Homo sapiens: one gene and its partner. The protein of the gene in region 1 interacts with the protein of each later gene in a pairwise test. Each region holds a gene or a part of one and is shown on either strand. Other genes may lie near its edges.

Region 1 (3,816 bases):
TAGGAAGGAAAGAGAGAACACCATTATTGCAGATAACAGGACTTCCATGCACATCATCATAACACAATGAAACAATTACTGGAAATACTAAGAGTTTAGAAAGACTCCTGGATATAAGGTCAGTTTAGAGAAAATAATAATATTCTTATGAATCAGCAATAATCAAGTAGAAAATATAACAGAAAAGACAACCCCATTCATAACAGCAACAAAATCTATAGGATGTCTGAAAATTCCCTTTAAAGGTTCCATAAAGGTACAAGGGCTTTATAGGAATTCCATTAAAGGACACAAAGGGAGATTTAAATAGAGAGCTCATGTTCATGGATGACATTTCCCTCCACATTCATCAGAAAATTTAATGCAGTTCCAATTAAGATTCTAGCAATAATTTTGGAGAAACCCATATTCCAAAACAGTGATAAAAACAGACACTAGTGATAAACCTGTATTCCAAAACAGTGATAAAAACAGACAAAATCAAAAGAGTCTGAGGAATGAGCAAATATACCAATGGAATGGAAGAGACAGTTTAAAAACAGATCTAGGTACAAATGGGAACCTGGTATATGATACAGTACTGTCAACCAGTAGGAGAAAGGATGTTTTATACTTAGCCAGATGTTATTCAGAAATTGATCTCAGTAATCTTAAACTGAAATATTCTTCTCTTGACCAATTTCTTTCTCCAGCCACCATCTTGTTTCTTAGTCCCTCTTCAGAGAAAAACTCCTCAAAACAGTCATCTAGGCCGTGTCCACCTGTCTGGAACCTCCTTCAAGCAGGCATTTTACCCCACACTCCCCTGAAACTACTCACCAAGTCATAATACCTCTACATAACGAAGTCAAAGGATCAGTGTTCTGTTATCTGGTCTGGCCTGTCAGCAGCGGCATGTCACAGGCTGACCTCCTACATAAGCAATTTCTTCCCTGGTTTCCAGGACTCTAGGCTCTTCCAGCCTGCCTCTTCCTCACTGGCCACTCTTTCTCAGACTAGTCTTTGCTAGTTTCTGACCTCTTCACACTGAAATGCTTCATATAATATCCATACCCCAAGACTCAAACATTTATCTCTAGCTCAGTACTCTCCCTCACACTTCAGACTTGTATATCCAGCTGCTGCTCTGCACTCCATGTCTGATGGGCACTTTGGGCTTAACATAACCACTGCTGACCTTCCCCAGAAGGTATTTCTCCACAGTTCTGTCCCTCTCACTCATTAGCAACTCTACCTATTTACTCTGACCAAACCCCCTGAGCTCTACCTGGAGTCTTCTCTTTCTCACTCACCCTGCATATGAACTTCTGCTAGATCCAGTGTGCTCTCCCTTCAGAAGATACCCAGAATCCAGACACTTCGCAGGTCATGGCTCCCAACATGGTCAGAGTCACTATCACCTTTCACCTGCGTCAATCTCCTAACTGGTCTCCCTGCTTCTGTTCTTACTGCTGTTCAATGTATTTTTTCACACCATGCAAAAGTAATTTTGCTAGGGTATCAGATAGGCTGTTTCACTTTTTTGCTCAAAACCATGCCAGGGCTTCCTCTGTGTGCCAATGTCCTCATCACGGCTCACAAGTCCCTGTGTGCGGATGGCCCATGACCCAGCCCTCATCTTCCACCAGATTTCCCACTCCTTTCCTCCTGTCACATTGGCCTCTTTGCTATTTTGTTTACTGTTCTCTGTAACCATCTAGATACCAGCACGGTTTGCCCCTGCGACCCTTATGAATGTGTGTTTACTGTGAGGTGCCATGGAGTCTTCCAACTGTGGATACTGAGTAGGCAACTGGGTGTGAGACCTGCAGCTGCAGTGGTCCAGGGTGGTGATACGAAGCTGGGAGCTGTCTCTATACAGGTGTCATGAAACGATGTGGAGCTCCAGGTGTGGGAGAAGGCAATTCTTCAAGAAGGTAATGAGAAGAAAAGAGAAGCACAGACAAAGCCTTGAAGAGCAAGGTGTTGAAAGAAAGCCTTCAGAGGAGACCGAGATGGAGCCATTCAAAGATGTAAAAGGAAATCCAGGCGTGCAGTGTAGCAGAGTCCAAAGAAGGAAAGAGTGGTCACCTGTGCTGAAAACTATGGGGACATCAAGAAGATGAGCTCTGAAGATGGTCCACTGGATTCAGCAGTCAGTGGAGACCTCCACAAAAACAGTCCAGGCGAAGGGCAGTAGCAGAAGCCAGGTCTCAGAGCTGCCAGTGTAAGTGAAGACGTGGAGATGATAGCTACTGAGAGGAGCAAAGACATGGGGAGTTGCAGAGGGAAACGTCAGGTGACAGGCAAGAGGAATTTAAAGTGGACATGACTGCTAATCAAATAACACAAGAAAGGGGACAGGCTGATGACAAAGTAGCAGGGACAAGCAAAGGCACTCAGTCCTTAAAAAAAGGGCCTGTGGTAGTTGGAGCAACATTTACTGGTCTACAGGAGGGAAGACTGGTTCAGATACCCACAGGTGTGTAGATTTGTCAGGAAATATGACAGAGTCCCAAGTGACAGCATAAGGCCAGGCTGTTAGCTAAAAGTGAGGGGAGTGAAGACAGAGGATTAGGAATTTTGGAAAGAAAAAGTGTGATACAGCTGGGGTAAGTGGAGATTAGACTTAGAAAAAGGCAGGTTAACACCATAGAGTGAAAGGCATGTAAGGCTAGCACTGATGCATTTCCAGTGACTCCAATATGCTAGGCTGTGTTGGCATATTAATATTTCACAAACCAATGGAACTGGAACCAATACAAATATATCTCTCTACCATAAATCATGCAAGAACTGCTGTTACTATCACACAGACACACCCAGAACTTTAATGTCTCTGCCCCTTCTTTATCTGGAACAGCTGTGATGTACTCATTTATCAATTGTCCTTTTCTTTCAGTTAAGTCTCCAGTTTCCATATCCGGAACACAGATAGGACTTTCATGACCAAGAAAGCATGTTTAACCTTAGGAAAGGCAAAAAGAAAGACCTCGGGCAATGTGAAATCACTTTATATAAGACCAGAAATGTGCCTGGAGATATCACCAACCTCCATTTTTTTTTTTTTTTAACTACAGAGGAATCTTAAAGAGTGACTCTTCTAGATGACAAGTTAGTGGGTGCAGCACACCAGCATGGCACATGTATACATATGTAACTAACCTCACAATGTGCATATGTACCCTAAAACTTAAAGTATAATAAAAAAAAAAAAAGTGACTCTTGTGTAGTAAAAAAAAAAAAAAAAAAAAAAAAAAAACACTGATAAAATTTCACTTGTTTCTTTTTCTTGTGTTAAAACTTAGTAATTTATTAAAAAGTAACACAGATGGTATGAACCCAGTCATCTAATTACATAATATATAATGGCATCCCTGTGTGTGCAGACATGGAGAGATGCTTCAGTGTTTACCCTGGTTATTTCTGGTGGTAAGATGTTGGGTTGTTATTTTCATCTTTCTATCTTCTGTACTGCTGTAATATTTTATTAATGAGTTTGTTTCATTTTCAGAAAAACAAAGTCACGATTCTTTAAAACAGATGATCTGGTTTTACACAAATAAACCAATGTGAGTGAACTAAGTTTTTGGTTTCTTAGCTGCAATCTGGTCAAACTGACCCAAGCCTAGAAATTTAAAACTTTCCATTAGTTGTTAAGTGTGGTGCAGATAAACTTTATGTTGGTTGAAAATATATAAAACTCACCCTTGTAAAGCTTTATGAATTTGTCCGCACTTTTCCTTCAACACTGCAAAAATACCTAGATGAAAAAAATACGTTTGAGAGTCTATTTGAAACTTATGATAGTACTAACCTAAAAATATTTTTGAAGAC
Region 2 (3,816 bases), on another chromosome or scaffold:
CTGTCCAAACTGAACGCCGAGGTGGCCTGTGTCGCCGTGCACGATGAGAGCGCCTTTGTGGTGGGCACAGAGAAGGGGAGAATGTTCCTGAATGCCCGGAAGGAGCTACAGTCAGACTTCCTCAGGTTCTGCCGTGAGTACCCCAGGGCTCCGGAGGGCCGGGCCCGCCATTTCCCGAGGGCAGGCGCTCTAGCCCATCTCTGGGTCCCCAACCCTGTCTAGCCAGGGTGGCGGTGTGTGGGGAGTGAACCTAACAAGCTAGGTTGTCTGAGATTCCCGATGTGGTGTTATTGAGGCAGCCCCTGAGTTGATAGAGACTGGCTGGGTGAACCCCAGGGTAGGCCAGAGCCAGCCACTTCCATCTGCCTTTTCCAGATGGGGACACCAAGGCCAAGGCTGCTGCTCAGTTCTTCCTCTTAACTATGTATTCCTGAACACAAGGACCAAATGCACTTATGCCAACACAATTTTTTTTTTCTTTAAATGAGACAGAGTCTTGCCCTGTCACCCAGGCTGGAGTGCAGTGGCACAATTTTGGCTCACTGCAACCTCTGCCTCCCAGGTTCAAGTGATTCTCCTGCCTCAGCTTCCCGAGCAGCTGGGATTACAGGCACCTACCACCACGCCCAACTAATTTTGTATTTTTAGTAGAGACGGGGTTTCACCTTGTTGGCCAGGCTGGTCTCGAACTCCTGACCTCAGGTGACCCGCCCACCTCAGCCTCCCAAAGTGCTGGGATTACAGATGTGAGCCGCCATGCCTGGCCATGTTCCAATAAGATTTATTGAATGCCTGCTGTACATAGCATCTTTTCTGATGCTAACTCACCTACCCTGACATCAACCTGAGGGGGCAGGCACTGTCATGGCTATAGTCAGGGTTAACATCTTAGGCCAGGTGCAGTGGCTCATGTCTGTAGTCCTAGCACTTCGGGAGGCTGAAATGGGAGGATCACTTGAGCCCAGGAGTTGGAGACCAGGCTGGGCAACATAGCAAGGCCTCTGTCTCTACAAAAAATTTAAAAATTAACCAGGCTTGATGGTGTACACCTGTAGTCCCAGCTGCTTGAGAGGCTGAGGCAGGAGGATCACTTGAGCCTGGGAGTTCAAGACTACAGTGAGCTACGATGGCACCCCTGCACTCCAGCCTGGGTGACAGTGAGTCCCCATCTCAAAAGAACCATGGTATAGCATGAGGTTAAGAGAACGGGCCGCCTGGGTCCACAACTGCTGTGCCTCAACCCACTCATCTGTGAAAGGGGAGGACGGGTGGGTCTGAGGGTTAAACGAATTGGTACCTTGCAAGCACTTAGGGCAGTGTCTGGCACTTGGTTCACACTCAATAGACACCAGCTGTTGTTACTATTATTAGTATTCACCTCACACCCCTAAGATCAGCTGTTTCAGGGAAGGGCATCCCCCAGCGCTGGGCCTAGCATTACTGGGGTGCAGCCGCATCCCCAGCCAGCCCCCCACCCCCCTCAGCCCTCAGAGCCTAGACCTTCTCCAGGGCCAGGATGGGGGACTGGGCCGGGTAGAATGGACAGCAGCAGGTCGTGTGGCACCCCAGCCGCCCAGAGCCTGAGGCGGTGCACCTGCCTTCTAGAGCCACGCAGAGCCGCTATTTATAGCACCAGGAACTCGGCTGGTTTATTTCAAGCTCCGCAGATCCCAGAGGAGAATAGGCTCCAAGCTGGGAGGGGGCCGCAGGCCCCTCCTCTCATCTCCTTTCCAATGCAGCTTCTAGAACATTCCCCAAGGATCCACCAACACTCTCCGGTCCCCACCCTGGCCCAGCCTGGCATGAACCTGCTGTTTGCAACCCACGGCCTCCTTGGAGCAGGGGTTGGGGGGTGCCTCCCAACCCTCTGCCGGAGGGTTTTCTCTCCCTCCGGCAGAGCAGAAAACGGTGGCATAGATTGGTCAAGACAGTGTTCGTGTCAGAGCACAGAAAGGCATGGATGGGGCCGGGCATGGTAGCTCACACCTGTAATCCCAGCACTTTGGTCAGGAGTTCGAGACCAGCCTGGCCAACATGGTGAGACCCCATCTCTACTAAAAATACAAAAATTAGCTGGGTAAGGTGGCAGGCGCCTATAATCCCAGCTACTCGGGAGGCTGAGGCAGGAGAATCACTTGAACCCTGGAGGTGGAGGTTGTAGTGAGCCAAGCTTGTGCCACTGCACTCCAGCCTGGGCAACAGAGCGAGACTCTGTCTCAAAAAAAAAAAAAAAAAAAAAAATAGAAAGACACAGATGGAACATTCATCGAACCTCAGTTCTGAGCTGGAATAGCTGGCCTCCCGTGAACATTCACAGACTGAGGCTCAGAGAGAGAAGGGACTAACCCAAGGTCACACAGCAAATTAGAGGTGACCAGAGGTGAGGCCCAGCCCTGGGAACTCTGAGATGACCAGCCCTGGCCCTCAGTGGGGTGGTTGGAATAGGGCTTGCTCACTCATTAATTCTTCATTCATTCATTCACTTGTGTATCACATTGTGTGCCAGTCTCCGCAGCTCAGCACAGGGCAGCGACATCCCAGCTCGAAGGCCGGGTGGTGAGACGGGTGCTCACTGTGGCCTCGCGTGCTCTGTGTCCCACAGGAGGGCCCCCGTGGAAGGATCCGGAGGCAGAGCACCCCAAGAAGGTGCAGCGGGGCGAGGGTGGAGGCCGTAGCCTCCCTCGGTCCTCCCTGGAACATGGCTCAGATGTGTACCTTCTGCGGAAGATGGTAGAGGAGGTGTTTGATGTTCTTTATAGTAAGATCCTTCCTCATTCCATTTGGGGGCCCCAGGGAGGGTGGGAGCCTCGGTCCCCACCCAGCAGAGGGGGCCCCCTCCTGTCCCACTATGGGCCCTGGGCAAAGCCGGACCCCAAGGCATGGGGCTACTGGCTACCCCAGCCCTTCCTCATCTCTGCATTCCCAGACACAGAAGTTCTGCTCCAGCCGTTTTCCAAACCTCCACCCCTACTGTCCCTGCCCTGGCTCAAGTCACTGCCACCTCTCGCCTAGAAATAGCCCCAGGCTTGCCACGGTCTCCCTGCTTCCAGACCAGCTCTCTACACCTGCCCTGCAACCAAGGGTATCTTCTCAAAGCACAAGTCTGATCATTAATGAAGCTCTTCTCTCCACAGCCTTCGGGGGCTCCCCATCACCCTGAGCATGGCACAGGGGCCCACACACCCATCCTCATCCCCTCCACACCTTCTTCTCCCACTAGGTGACAGGGCCCTACTGACCTCTCTACAGAACCACTTCCAGTTCTCCAGCACTCGCTGGTGCATTTCACATGCCCTGGACTTCGCGCTGTTACATCTTTTGAGACTGCCTTTCCCCTCCTGTGTCTGGCAGACACCTGCGTGGCACTGAGGCTCTGCTCCTGGAAGCCCCCTCACAGTGGGTTTAGGCCCCTCTCTTGGCACCCACAGTGCCCTGTCCCCTCTCCAGCCCAAGAGCTCTCCAGAGTCAGGGGCTGTGTCTGCCCTTTCTAGCTGTCTCCAGCCTACAGTTCAGAGCCCAGCAACAGCAGGTGCTTGGAGAATGTTTGTTGAATGACTAAGTGAAGGCTGATTGCTCAGCCATGTCTTTCCTGCAGGAAGAGGAGACCTGGCCTCCCTTGGGAAGCGTCAGGTTGCAGAGGGCCTCAGGGCCCCAGTGGTGGTCTTCACACGCCCTGGGAAACATCGGGCAGGTCCCTTTGGTGCTCAGGGTCCCACCTCATTCATTTCTGATTTGGCTTTATCCCTTCTCCTACTGTAGCCTTTGGTTTTATGGAGCAAAGGTCTGTGAGGAAACTTCTGCTGTTCTTATGTCAGA

The links.
Region 2: the proteins of SPTLC1 (region 1) and GTF2IRD1 interact in a two-hybrid assay, tested with the Homo sapiens proteins (one large-scale study listed by BioGRID).

The regions. Positions count from the first base shown.
Region 1 is NC_000009.12:92,042,312-92,046,127, forward strand, and holds part of SPTLC1 (serine palmitoyltransferase 1), read right to left. Parts: intron 3,743-3,816; coding exon 3,688-3,742; intron 1-3,687. UniProt on the Homo sapiens protein: Component of the serine palmitoyltransferase multisubunit enzyme (SPT) that catalyzes the initial and rate-limiting step in sphingolipid biosynthesis by condensing L-serine and activated acyl-CoA (most commonly palmitoyl-CoA) to form long-chain bases.
Region 2 is NC_000007.14:74,512,839-74,516,654, forward strand, and holds part of GTF2IRD1 (general transcription factor II-I repeat domain-containing protein 1), read left to right. Parts: coding exon 1-133; intron 134-2,506; coding exon of another isoform or gene 2,507-2,602; coding exon 2,603-2,758; intron 2,759-3,816. UniProt on the Homo sapiens protein: May be a transcription regulator involved in cell-cycle progression and skeletal muscle differentiation. May repress GTF2I transcriptional functions, by preventing its nuclear residency, or by inhibiting its transcriptional activation.